2 linked regions of the Homo sapiens genome follow. The protein of the gene in region 1 purifies or fractionates together with the protein of each later gene. This does not show direct contact. Each region holds a gene or a part of one and is shown on either strand. Other genes may lie near its edges.

The links.
Region 2: the proteins of HP1BP3 (region 1) and DDI2 purify together in Homo sapiens (affinity purification with mass spectrometry; 2 studies listed by BioGRID and IntAct, with this or other methods). This does not show direct contact.

The regions. Positions count from the first base shown.
Region 1 is NC_000001.11:20,742,308-20,749,307, reverse strand, and holds part of HP1BP3 (heterochromatin protein 1-binding protein 3), read left to right. Parts: intron 1-1,652; coding exon 1,653-1,764; intron 1,765-3,651; coding exon 3,652-3,765; intron 3,766-4,216; coding exon 4,217-4,511; 3' UTR 4,512-7,000. UniProt on the Homo sapiens protein: Component of heterochromatin that maintains heterochromatin integrity during G1/S progression and regulates the duration of G1 phase to critically influence cell proliferative capacity.
Region 2 is NC_000001.11:15,613,607-15,620,487, reverse strand, and holds the start of DDI2 (protein DDI1 homolog 2), read right to left. Parts: upstream 3,031-6,881; 5' UTR 2,818-3,030; coding exon 2,680-2,817; intron 1-2,679. UniProt on the Homo sapiens protein: Aspartic protease that mediates the cleavage of NFE2L1/NRF1 at 'Leu-104', thereby promoting release of NFE2L1/NRF1 from the endoplasmic reticulum membrane.

The DNA.
Region 1 (7,000 bases):
ACTACTGACTGAAAACCAAGAGGGAACAGCTTTACAAATTTCATATTTACAAAAAGAAAAACAAATAATCAAAACTGAATTCTTAATTTAAAGCATCTGCTTATAAGAAGTTGCTTTTACTGTAAAGATTTTTCTGATATTTATTGTAATTTAGATAAATCTCTAGGTTCAAAGCAACTCTAAATTATAGTGTATTTTTTCCTACTTTTGAATGTTCACCAAAAACATCTAATTTTACTTTGAAACAAAGCCAGGATTTTAGAGTACTTACTACTTATATTATTTCTTATTAACCTAAGCCCCACAACAGACAATACTTTATTTCAGTAAAGTATATTTACTCTAGGAGGTGGTGATTTGAGATGAGACACCCTGCCTTATCAGCATTATCGTGTGGATTGGTGAGACTGGGTGACTTCTCAATGAACTATTAGAAGAGGCACAATGTTGTAGGGTGAGGGATATGGAAATTAAGTAACAGAAGAAGACAATCCAGAATATATTATTGTAATTAAAAGGTAATTTTGAAGTCTTTTTTTTTTTTTAGACGGAGTCTCGCTGTGTTGCCCAGGCTGGGGGGCGCAGTGGTGCGATCTTGGCTCACTGCAAGCTCCGCCTCCCCTGGGTTCACGCCATTCTCCTACCTCCACCCCCTGAGTAGCTGGGACTACAGGCACCTGCCACCACCCCTGGCTAATTTTTTTGTTTTTGTATTATTTGTTTTTAGTAGAGACAGGGTTTCACCGTATTAGCCAAGATGATCTCAATCTCCTTACCTCGTGATCTGCCGGCCTCGGCCTCCCAAAGTGCTGGGATTACAGGCGTGAGCCGCCACGCCCGGCCTATTTCTATATGCCAGATGTTTTAAGAGAAGATGAATTTGGTTAACAAGCCTTTCAGTTTCACTGATATTTGCAGCTGTTTTTTGGATACTGAATCACCATAAAATATATTTTGGATATGTCTCTGTAAGAAAGATGAGAATGAAGGACTTCAGGAACCATGATATTGTTTTGTTACTGTTTACTGATTTATGAATAATTAGTTCTGTTCATCTTTATAAGAGATTCTCCTAGATGATTATCAATACCTATAGGTACACAATAGATGTTTAAGTGAATGGAAATAATTAAATACTTAGTTTTAGGTCTGCTGTTTATGTGCTACCTTAGAGCAAGTCACTTAACTACTTTGAGCTCAAGTCACTTAACCACTCTGGGCTTTTTTTTTTTCCCTGTGAAATAAGGTATTTGACTCAATGGTCTCTAATGTGTCTTTTCATTATAACTCTTGCCAGGTATGGTGGCTCATGCCTGGAGTCCCAGCAGTCTGGGAAGCCAAGGTGGGAGTATTGCTTGAGCCCAGGAGTTTGAGACCAGCCTGGGCAACATAGTGAGACTTTGTCTCTATATTTTGCAAAATTTTAAAATATAGATATATGTATGTATGTATGTATATAATTTAACTCTTGCCAAACTTATGGGCAATAAGTAAATGTTTAATTAAATACCTTTGAACACATAGGATTCACTTAGTGTATGTCAATTACCGTATGTGACAGGATATTAAATTGATGGGCATCTGTTTGTGGTTGAGGGAATTATCTAATCTGAATAACTAGATAACTTTCATTTCTGAATTTTTTTTTTCAGTGCATTTGCTGAAAAAAACCCTGCAGAAATGCGAAAAGAATGGGTGGATGGAACAGATCTCTGGGAAAGGGTTCAGTGGCACCTTCCAGCTCTGTTTTCCCTATTATCCCAGGTAAGTACTTAGCCTATAATAGATCACTGTAAATTTATAGTCTAAGTTACACACTCAGTTTAATTTATTTTACCCTTATTACTGTTTTAGTGAACTGGAAATACAGTCGTCCTTTGTTACATATAGGGGATTGGTTACAGAACTGCCCGCATACCCAAATGCGCATGTACTCAGCCCTGTGGAATCCATGTATCTGAAAAGTCTGTCCTCTTTGTATGCAGGCTTCGCATCCTGTGGATGTTGTATTTCTGATCTGTGTCTGGTTGAAAAAAAAAAGTCCACATATAAAGTGGGCTAATGCGTTGCCAACCTGTGTTGTTCAAGGGACAACTGTATTTGAAAATAAAGATGACTTTTAAGGCAGTATTATTTTGGAGTAAAAGGTTTTGTATAAAAATAGTGATTTTAGCCAGGCATAAGATTATTTGAGATCCTCGGATGGTCATTTTGATGTTCATTCCTTCTTTATCAAGTAAATGATAATGACAGATTCTTAGAGGATTATGTATAAGTTTTTGTTTTTGTTTTTTGAGACAGGGTCTCACTCTATCGCCCAGGCTGGAGCAGTGGTATAATCTCGGCTCACTGCAATCTCCGCCTCCTGGGCTCAAGTGATCCTCCCACCTCAATATCCCACGTAGCTGGGACTACAGGTGCGCGCCACCACACCCAGCTAATTTTTGTGTTTTTTGTAGAGATGGGGGTCTTACCATATTATCTAGGCTGGCCTTGAACTCCTGGCTCAAGCAGTCCTCTCGCCTCAGCCTCCCAAAGTGATGGGATTATATGCATAAGTTTTAATTGTCCAATACCAAGTGGGGAGAACATTGACTGTTTTCAAGAATCTTAACTCTACCTCCATACTGTAGAGACAGGAACACTTATCTGAAAATTTGTTTCTTGCAAATACCTTATTTATTCTTTGAAACAAAAAAATATATTGATCACCTCCTGTGGTCCAAGCATTGTTTCATGCACTGGGTTTAAAGCCTTTTGATTTCCAGTAAAGTACATAACATATACCACTAAGACCCTGTTTTAGCAAGACTATTGTGTAACTTTCTTATATTATTATTTCTGTACAAACATAAGTGTTACTTGGCTTAATACATATTATATAAATTTTTCGAACATTAAACATTAAATTTAATTCCCAAAGTCACACACACACAAAATGTTACATTCTGCCAGGTGTGGTGGGATGCACCTGTAGTCCTAACTACTTGGGAAGGTGAGGTGGGAGGATCCCTTGAGCCTAGGAGTTTGATTCCAGCCTGGGCAGCATAGCAAGACCCTGTGTCTGAAAAAGGCAAGAAACACACACACACACACACACACACACACACACACACACACATATATGTATGTATGTTATCATTTAAGGATATGTTAATCAAAGGAATCAAGGTTCATACCACCAAGGACAAAAAAGAGTTTAGGAGATCCTTGCCGAATACCTTTGAAGCTTTGAACAGATTTAGGCCTTTGAGGTCTTTTTTTTTAAGACTTGGAGGTCTTTTGCCAGTATTATGAGGCTGAAGTGTGTATTCCATGCAGACTGTTCATTGCTGTGTACTCATTGGCTAATACAGTGCCAGATACATATTAGGAGTTTAAGTAATTGTTTACTAAATAAATGACTATGGATTAATTTTATTAAATAGTGGGTATAGAATTAGGTATGGTGCAGGACTTTTATAGATTTGGCATAACTTTATATGTATGTTCAAAATACGGTAAATTGTAACCTGATACGTGTAACCTAGCTTGACATTTTTGGGAAGGGTGGGAAGAAGTGGGATATGTCCAGGTAAGAGCATCTAGGTTCACATTATTTTTCTTGTTTTATATGGGACTTGTGTTTTAATCTAATTTTTCCCCGTATAGCCCAGGAGTTCTGTTTCCGAAGAAAGAGCCAGATGATTCTAGAGATGAGGATGAAGATGAAGATGAGTCATCAGAAGAAGACTCTGAGGATGAAGAGCCGCCACCTAAGAGAAGGTGTGGACATGTGAAAACCCCTTGTGGGGAGGACACTAAATACCTCAGAGCTGAAAAATAGTGCTATAGGAGGGGCTAAAGCTAAAAAGCATTTCAGAAACTCAGGATCCTTCTCAAGTTCTTTATATAAATTTGGATTGATCTTCTCCTTTGAAAATCAAGGGCTCCAGACTTTTAGGGCAAGCCTGTGTGTATCCATAGTTTAGTTATTCAAAGAAAAATAATTACATATTTCCCTAGGAACAACGTCATGAAATTGTGTCTAGACTTCATGAATTGGTTGAATTTTTATACAATTTTAGTAAAATCTCTAGTAAAAAATTGTCACATTCCTATTCTTAACGTAAGTGACCACTTCATATGCCGTTTCTCTTTAGAAAGCATCTGGTTGTCCCAACAAAACGAATCTCTTAAGTACTAAATGACGGCCTTTGCTCTTTGGTTCTCACAGGTTGCAGAAGAAAACCCCAGCCAAGTCCCCAGGGAAGGCCGCATCTGTGAAGCAGAGAGGGTCCAAACCTGCACCTAAAGTCTCAGCTGCCCAGCGGGGGAAAGCTAGGCCCTTGCCTAAGAAAGCACCTCCTAAGGCCAAAACGCCTGCCAAGAAGACCAGACCCTCATCCACAGTCATCAAGAAACCTAGTGGTGGCTCCTCAAAGAAGCCTGCAACCAGTGCAAGAAAGGAAGTAAAATTGCCGGGCAAGGGCAAATCCACCATGAAGAAGTCTTTCAGAGTGAAAAAGTAAATTTTATAGGAAAAAAGGGTATCATGATGAAATTCAAAATCTTATTTTCTAAGGTCAGTGTGCATTTGTTTAGTTTTGATGCTTTTCAAATTACATTATTTTCCTCCCCTATGAACATTGTGGGGAGGGACTCTAAATAAACCAGTTTAGGCATTTGCTAGCTTTAGGTGCTTTTATTGGTGCCTGCCCTTTTCCTTGTTCATTTTAATTTCTGCAATAATCCTGGACTTTCCTAAACTATGTAATGTATACTTGTCCTTTTTCTCTGCCTCCCCCAACCCCCTGTTGTTTTTATGGTCAGCTTTGCCTTTTTTTTTTCTTCCAATTTTATCTAAACAGTTGCAGAGATTTTTATATTTGTAGAAAGCATCAAGAACGGTATGCCAGTCAGGTCCTGGAAGTAAAATGGAGGCACAATATAGCACTGACTGAGTTGTAAAGCCTCCTGCCTGGAGACTTCAGTTATAGCTGTAATAATTAATCTTATTTATAAAAGCCACTCCACTAACCTTTTCTCTCCAACTGTAAACACAGAGACAGCTTTGGGAATAAGCCAAAAACAGGGTGATCTCATTAGATTTTGAAGATATATGACTCCTTTGGGCTACATTTCATATTGATCAATTTCTAGGTATTTTTCACTGGCCCAAAGTATTGCATTCCCTTAACAGCAAGCACAAGTTCTCTATATCACTTGTTTTTTGTTGTTGTTGTTGTTGTCGTCGTTGTTTTGAGACGGAGTCTTGCTCAGGTGCCCCGGAGTGCAGTGGTGCAATCTCAGCTCACTGCAACCTCCACCTCCTGGGTTCAAGCAATTCTCCTGCTTCAGCCTCCCGAGTAGCTGGGATTACAGGTGTGTACCACCACGCCTGGCAATTTTTTTGTATTTTTAGTAGAGATGGGGTTTCGCCGTGTTGGTCAGGCTGGTCTCGAACTCCTGACCTCAGGTGATCCGCCTGCCTCGGCCTCCCAAAGTGCTGGGATTACAGGAGTGAGCCACTGTGCCTGGCCTATCCCACTTGGTTTTTGACTGAAGGGGAAGTGTAGAAATATATTGATTTGTGATTTCTGGTGTCACCTGTGTTACCAAAAATCAAAACAAATCTTTTTTATTTTTTATTATTATTATTATTTTTGAGACAGAGTCTCGCTCTGTCGCCCAGTGTGGAGTGCAGTGGTGTGATCTTGGCTCACTGCAAACTCCGCCTCCCAGGTTCAAGCGATTCTCCCACCTCAGCCTCCTGAGTTGGGTCCTACAGGCGCACACGACCACGCCCAGCTAATTTTTTGTATTTTTAGTAGAGTTGGGGTTTCACCATGTTAGCCAGGATGGTCTCGATCTCCTGACCTCGTGATCCACTCACCTCAGCCTCCCAAAATCCTGGGGTTACAGATGTGAGCTACCACTCACGGCCCAAATCTTCTTGATCATATGTTTAAATATATTTTTTAATATTTGGAGCATGAGTTGTCACTTCTTGTTTGCCTTTTTTATAAGGAAATGTTGGAGAGTTACATCATTGCTAATGTAGAAATGTTAAGTGGAAAAATATACAGTTTGGTAAAATAAACTAGATTCTACATTTATTTGTGGGTTTTTTTCCCCTCCTTTCTTTCCACAGCACTTTTGATATCAAGCAAGTGGCTTCCTTTTTGAGATATTAAAAAAAAAAAGAAAAGGAAAAAAGTAAATGAAGCCCAACTACCTAACCCTTTCTTATTTGTATTTGTTTTAGTATTGTGAAGTTGTGTTAAATAGTACTAGCTAGAAATACAAATTTCTGGTTATCATTTCTCTTCCCTGTGGCACTTGACATTTTAATTGTCTTAAAGTTTTTGAAGTACATCTTCTGGCCCCTTGAGTACTGCCAGAGGCAAAAGATGTTTGTTTCTTATTCATTCCACTTTTGTCTCCTGGGATCCCTTCTGTAGCCTAAAGTATGGCTGGGAAATGGACTTGAGAAGATTGGCTTGAATTAGATCATAATCATGTGTGATCCCATCATGAATTCATTGGAATTTGTGTTGCATGTAAGGCAATCTTTCCTGTTGTAAATCTTCCTTTTTTAATGTACATATATTTTGAAAAATATGAATAAACATGAAATTTTAAAAGCTGCTGAACCGTAGCTTATATTTAAAGGTTTTGAGTATAGTATATCCTCAGAAGTAGCTAAGTGTCGCCCTCACTTTAAGTCTTTTCTACTCCTTGAAATGAACACCATCATTTTCCTTTTTAAATACAAGCTCCAGTTCATGTGTTTTGGAATTCTTATAGAGGGTAAACGATGTTTCCAGATACATTGAATGCTAATTACTTAATGAATCAAAGGTTTAAAAAATCATTTTGTATTTTATTAAAGACTGCTTCCAAGATCATAGAGTACAATCATGTTCAATAAATGTTCAATATTCAGATAAGTCCTTGGACTAGAAAAAATTACAGTACTGCAAAAGATAACAGATAAATCCTAGACATCAAATTCTAG
Region 2 (6,881 bases), 5.1 Mb from region 1:
GTCTAGGAAAGGAAGGGAAGATGAGTAATATGAGAGAACCCTGGGAGGTAATGGGGGGGGACACTCAAGTAAGTAAACATGATATATTTATGGGTAAAAACTATAGTGATGTTTACTATTATGATTTGATGAAAGGAAATGACTCAAGTGTCTAGGGTGGATCCTGTTCCTGCCTGATGGGCAAGCAAGCAAGTGAAAGACAACCGACCACCAGACACCTTAAAATAGATACTGTGTTGTCAGGTTACAATGGAGCCAACAGAACAGACTGGAAAAACAGGAGCTGTTTATGGCTATCTAATACAGGCTTAACACCAGTTGGAGCCCAAGTTTCTATATGCTAATTTGGCTTGGGAAGGAAGTAAATGCCGAAACATTGACATAATGAACAAGAAATAATTTGGAGTTAGCCTATGTTCAATTACTAAGGTATTCCTAACTTTACCAACTGGCAGAGGGCAATGTCTGGCTGACCACACAATAAATCGTCTTTTATGATGGCTGTAACAAGAAATTTAAGTCAATTAAAGGGGGTGTCAGGTATCCCTTTGACTTAAATTTCTTGTTTCAGCCATCACAAAAAGTGCAGGAATGGAAACAACCTCAACCTCTGTCTTTTCCCAAGCCCTAACAACAAAATCAATTTACATTTTAATTTCTTATTTTCCCTACCAGCCGGTGATCATAACCAGGGTAATATAACAGCTAGAGGAAAAAACAATTGAAAAAGCCACTATCGGGCCGGGTGCGGTGGCTCACAGCACTTTGGAAGGCCGAGGCGGGCAGACCACGAGGTCAGGAGATCGAGACCATCCTGGCTAACATGGTGAAACCCCTTCTCTACTAAAAATACAAAAAATGAGTCGGGCGCGGTGGTGGGCGCCTGTAGTCCCAGCTACTCGGGAGGCTGAGGCAGGAGAATGGCACGAACCCGGGAGGTGGAGCTTGCAGTAAGCCGAGATCGCGCCACTGCACTCCAGCCTAGGCGACAGAGACTCCGTCTCGAAAAAAAAAAAAGAAAAGAAAAGAAAAGAAAAAGCCACTATCAAAAATTGAAGAGTTGTCCGGGAACGGTGGCTCACACCTGTAATCGCAGCATTTTGGGAGGCCGAGGCGGGCAGATCACTAGAGGTCAGGAGTTTGAAATCAGCCTGGTCAACATGGTGAAACCCCGTCTCTACTAAAAAAAAATTACAAAAATTAGCCAGGCGTGGTGGCGCGCGCCCGTAGTCCCAGTTACTCAGGAGGCTGAGGCAGGAGAATCGCTTGAACCCGGGAGACTGGGGTTGCAGTGAGTCGAGAACGCACCACTGCACTCCAGCATGGGCGACAGAGCAAGACTCCGTCTCAAAAACAAAAACAAAAAAAGAAAAAAAATTGAAGAGTTTATTTTCTCTATTTAAACAGTCCTTTCCTAGTTCTCCACATGAGGCATTCACTGACAGAACTGGTTCCTGAGCTTTTGTGGATTAACTTTTTAAATTCTTTCTGAACAGCTTTATGCCAAGGTTCTAAAGTTCACATTGTGTAAAGGAATCATACTTCTGAACAAAGTATTGACACGTGTTTACCATAAGACAGCAGAACAAGCTGCAGTTGGGCAATCGTTTTGTAAACTATTTCATAACTGCAGTAGAAAATCAAGATTTACTTGATGGAGACTTGGGAGACCTCTATAATTTTCTTAATGTTTAGACTATTTCCTCCAGGCTAAATTTATTAAGTCATGATCTAAGTGTTTTAGTGTAAAGTTTACAGCGTTAGTGTCACCGATTCTGTTTGATAAAGACTAGGGGCAGCCCCAAAGCATTTTGAGAATTACTTTGCTTAGTTAAAATATGAGAGGCTGAACTTCTTTCCAGCAAGCTGAGTAGGGAAATGAAACCACCAAACAGCACTGATACTAGGCCGTTTCCAAGCAAATATCCTTTTAAAGCATTGAGCTTTGAACTGACCCAAACTCTGAACTGTGACCTGAAAGAAAAAGGGCCTTCTGGCTTACTACCAGGGTAGAACCGAAACAAACAAACAGCTTGAGTTGAACCAATAGGTACTGTTTTTCAAAAGAATTTAACCAGAAACGCATGTGGTGGGTAAAGAGCATTTCCAAAGACCCCAAAATGAGGTAGTGCAAGTCTTAAACTTTTTCTTTCACCGGAAGTGCAAATCTGTGCATTTAAAGGTAAACTGCGTATATTTAAGCAGAAACCCTCTCCAGAAAAAAAAAAAAAAAAAAGCAGAGGAACATCTATCTACCACAGTGATCCAAACTGGTATTTCTGGTTTGCAGGATGTATGAATCCTAGCAAACCCAGGGCTGCTTCTGAGGTCCACAACGATATCCTACACTCGGGATTAGAAACAGGGAAGGGCCAAAGAGCCAAAGGTGGGGAGGGTTAGCGCTGCTCAACAGTCCACGCGCCCCTCACGCTGCAGTGGGTGCGTCTGCGGTCAGGTTCTCCGCTCCCTCTCCTCGTACCCCACCCCATGCTCGGAGTGTGTGAGGGCAGCTACTGATGCCAGCTCCCCAGCTCCTTTCCGGATGCGGGGGTGACCTGAGAATGGCTATCCTTGCTCCCCCCAGCCCCCAATTCTTCACCAGTAGCAAAGGGAGGGAGTGAGGCCCCGAGGCGGGGAGGGCTTAGCTCCGGGGCAGGCCCGGCTCGCTGCCCGGCGTACCTGGCTCTCGGCTGCGGGGATGCCAGACTCGAGCTCGCACAGCGCGCGGAAGTTGTGCAGCTCGAAGTCGGCGTCGACCTGGAGGGAAAAGGTCACCTCGGAGAGGTCCCTCCGCACACAGTACACGGTGAGCAGCATGGCCCGGGCCCGACCCGGCTCGGCTCGGCTCGGCCCGGCCTGGGCGCGGGGCGCAGGGGAAGAGGCGGCGGCGTGGCCTGGCTGGTGCTGCGGGAGGACGGCGCCGGCTGCTCGTTCGCTCGCTCGCTCCCTCCCTCACACACGCTCAGTGAGTCACTCCCTCCCGCCCTCACTAGCAAGCACGGCCGCCGCCACACGCCTGCGAGTCCGTCTGCCTGCCGGCCTGCCTCCCACGGCTGCCGCCAAGCGCGCCGGCCGCCCGGCGCCCCGCCCCGCCGCAACGCGGCTGCCGTAAAGCCCGCCTCGCCTTCCCCGCCTTCGCAACGCAGCGGGGGGCGGGGCCGGGAAGAGGAGGAGGAAGCCAGGAGAGGATAGGAGGGGGAGGAGTGGGAAGGGGGCGTGGAAGAGGAGAGGGAGGAAGGGCAAGAAAAGGGGAGGGAAGGAAAGGAACGCGGAGAAGGAAATCTCTGCTGACTGGTTGACTTAATGACAGAAGTCTGTGGAGGAGTCCCCGGTCTTATTTATTCACCGAACAGGCATTGATTAAGCGCCTACCATGTGTCGGGCGCTGGCGATGCAGAAATGAATAAAAGGATAAATCCTTCTCCGTAACTCTCAATCTAGTACAGGAGTTAGTAATAAAACATATTTTTCGAGGTAGAAATTGAGGCTCCGACAGAGTAATTCACTTCCTGTCTTAGTGATTTAGGATTGAAACCAAAATCATTACCCTCCCTAGTCTACAGAAGCCAGTTGGCTGTGGCCCACGCCTACCTCCCCAGCCCCTTCTTCCGAGCTCTTCCCACATTCTCTGCCCTCCCAGCCACATAGGTCAGTTCCTCCAAGGCTCCATTCCCCTGTCTTGTAAATAATTTTCTCTCTACTTGGACTGTGTCTGTTTCCTAGCCCTAGCAACTCCTACCACCTAGCGCAGTGCCTTTTTGGGCACAGCTTAGAATCTACTCAATAAATATTTGCTACTTTAATGGCCTGTTTTTAAGGCACACAGCTGATGAGTGGTAGAGGCCCAGAACTAAGGTGCGGATGAGTAAGAAAACCAAAACTGAAAGATGAACTTGTAATGGATGCCAGATTAGCATCTTTCCATTTACTCCCACTCCCCCTCCATGGTAGGGAGCCCTTTTCCATTTTAACAGGAGAGAAGGAGCAAATAAGATGGCTGTGGGTGCAGGTAAGTAGGTAGTAAGTAGGCTGTTGGTGGCAGGAAAGGGAGAATTAGCAGCTGAAGGCTTTTACAAAGAGAAATTAGAGGAGCTGGGCGCGGTGGCTCACGCCTGTAATCCCAGCACTTTGGGAGGCCAAGGCGGGCGGATCACAAGGTCAGGAGTTCGAGACCAGCTTGGCCAATATGGTGAAACCCCGTCTCTACTAAAAATACAAAAATTAGCCGGGCATGGTGGCGGACACCTATAGTCCCAGCTACTCGGGAGGCTGAGGCAGGAGGGTCACTTGAACGCGGGAGGCGGAGGTTGTAGTGAGCCGAGATCAGGTCACTGCACTCTAGCCTGGGAGACAGAGCGAGACTCTGTCTCAAAAAAAAAAAAAAAAAAGAGAAAGTAGAGGCACAGGGGAGTGAGAATGCTTATATCCCCTAGGAGCAACAGAAAGCTTGACTATCAGTGGCTTAAACAAACAAGGGTTTGTTTTCTCACAGGAGAGAAGGCCTGGAGGTAGCAACAGCACTGGTTGAGTGGCTCACTGAAATCAGGGCCAATACTTTTGTAATTGTCTTGACCTTTTCCTGAGGGTTGCAATATATGGCTGGCTGCCTCCACTGCACGCATCATTTTCCTATTCAAGGAAAAAGCTTGCCCAGAAGTCCCTGTGCACATTTTTGCTTACATCTCACTGGACAGAATTGTGTCACATAGATGCAAGAGAGGCTAGGAACGCAAGTATTTAGCTTTGCCTAAAGGACATAAATAGGGAAAAGGGGGGCTGGGAATGGGTATTAGGAAAGATGTACACAGTGCCTTCTACAGTGAATGTTTGAAATAACCATTGCAAATTGAAGCAAGTTTAGCTGAGAAATGTTCTAGGATTGCCCAGTGGTGGTATCAAGGAATCAGTTGAGGCTTGAATCATTGATTAATTGTTATATTTGGTCTAGTGGTGCTCAGGTTCCCAGGTCTGGCAGATTTTGTTCTCCAAAGATGACCATGACAGTGCCTCCCATCGTCTATGCTCTTCCTACAACATGATTGGATAACCCTCCCATTAAGAAGTGGGGTGAATGTCCCTCCCTTTGAATCATGGCTCGGCAGACTAACTCTGGCATAAGTGACATTATGTGATTTCCTTTTTTTTTTTTTTTTTTATCAAGACAGGGTCTGGCTCTGTCACCCAGGCTGGAGTGCAGTGGCACGATCATGGCTCACTGCAGCCTCAACCTCCAGGGCTCAAGTGATCCCTCCAGCTCAACCTCCCCAGCAGCTGGAACTACAGGTGTGCACCACCACACGCAGCTAATTTCTTTTTAGTAGAGATGAGATCTTGCTATGTTGCCCAGGCTTGATTTCCTTTTTATTATGATTTTACATTATTTTTAGTTAAAAAAAATAGGGATGAGTCCTTGCTATGTTGACCAGGCTAATCTCCAAATCCTGGCCTCAAGTGATCCTCCCACCTTGGCCTCACGAAGTACTGGGATTACAGATGTGAGCCATCGCACCCAGCCACTTTGTGTGATTTTTAAGGCTAGGTCTCGCCTGTGTCCACCTGGAGCCAGCAGTTCTCACCCAGCATCCAGCAATATATGCCAGACACCAATGGAGGGGACAAAGCAATGGTGGACAGGCTCAGGCTGGGGCTGCTGCTTCTGGCACTGCTCCTACTTATGCAGATTTATTCAAATCAAACTATTGTAACGTTTTCAAGTAACTCCTCCCAGGGTACCTTGTCTGCCCCAAACCCAGCTAATGCCACCACCAAGGCAGTTGGCTGTGCCCTGCAGTCAACTGCCAGTCTCCTCATGGTCTTGCTTTCTCTTCTATATTTCTACTGTTAAGAAACATCTATACTTCCGTGTCTTCTAAACCCATTCCAAATGGCATCTAGGAGTCCAATGTGGCAAGAAAAAAAGCGGGTCTTCATCAAATCTATTAATTTCACACCTTCTTTTACTGATACAGAAAAGGTTGAGAACCTGGCCAGGTGTGGTGGCTCATGCCTGTAATCCCAACACATTGAGAGGTCGAGGCAGGTGGATCACCTGAGGTCAGGAGTTTGAGACCAGCCTGGCCAACATGGTGAAACCCCGTCTCTACTAAAAGTACAGAAAAATTACCCAGATATGGTGGTGGATGCCTGTAATCCCAGCTACTTGGGAGGCTGAGGCAGGAGAATTGGTTGAACCTGGGAGGCAGAGGTTGCAGTGAGCCGAGATTGCGCCATTGCACTCCAGCCTGGGCAACAAGAGCAAAACTCTGTCTCAAAAAAAAAAAAAAAAAAAAAAAAGGCCAGGCGCGGTAGCTCACATCTGTAATCCCAGCACTTTGGGAGGCCGAGGCAGGTGGCAGGTGGATCACAAGGTCAGGAGTTCAAGACCAGCCTGACCAACATGGTGAAACCCCGTCTCTACTAAAAATATAAAAATTAGCCAGACGTGGTGGTGTGTGCCTGTAATCCCAGCTACTCAGGAGGCTGAGGCAGGAGAATGGCTTGAACATGGGAGGCAGAGGGTGCAGTGAGCCGAGATCGCGCCATTGCACTCCAGCCTGGGCGACAGAGTGAGACTCCATCTCAAAAAAAAAAAAAAAGGAAAGAAAGAAAGAAAAGGTTGAGAACCCCAAATTTAATTGCTTTGAAGAACACGTGAAGGGTTTGACTAGATGATGGATGCCAATATTAAATCTGCTTAAATGTCATGTACAAGATGAAGAGAGGCAACATCCAAAATTGAAGACATTATTTCTTGAATGTGGCTTAAGAAATGTGGACAGTTAAAACTACCTTGAAAATAAGAATAGTAGATCCTGAGACAAAACTTGGGTAATAAAAAAAAAATAATAATAAATAATAGATTTTATCTTGTTTAGAAATAA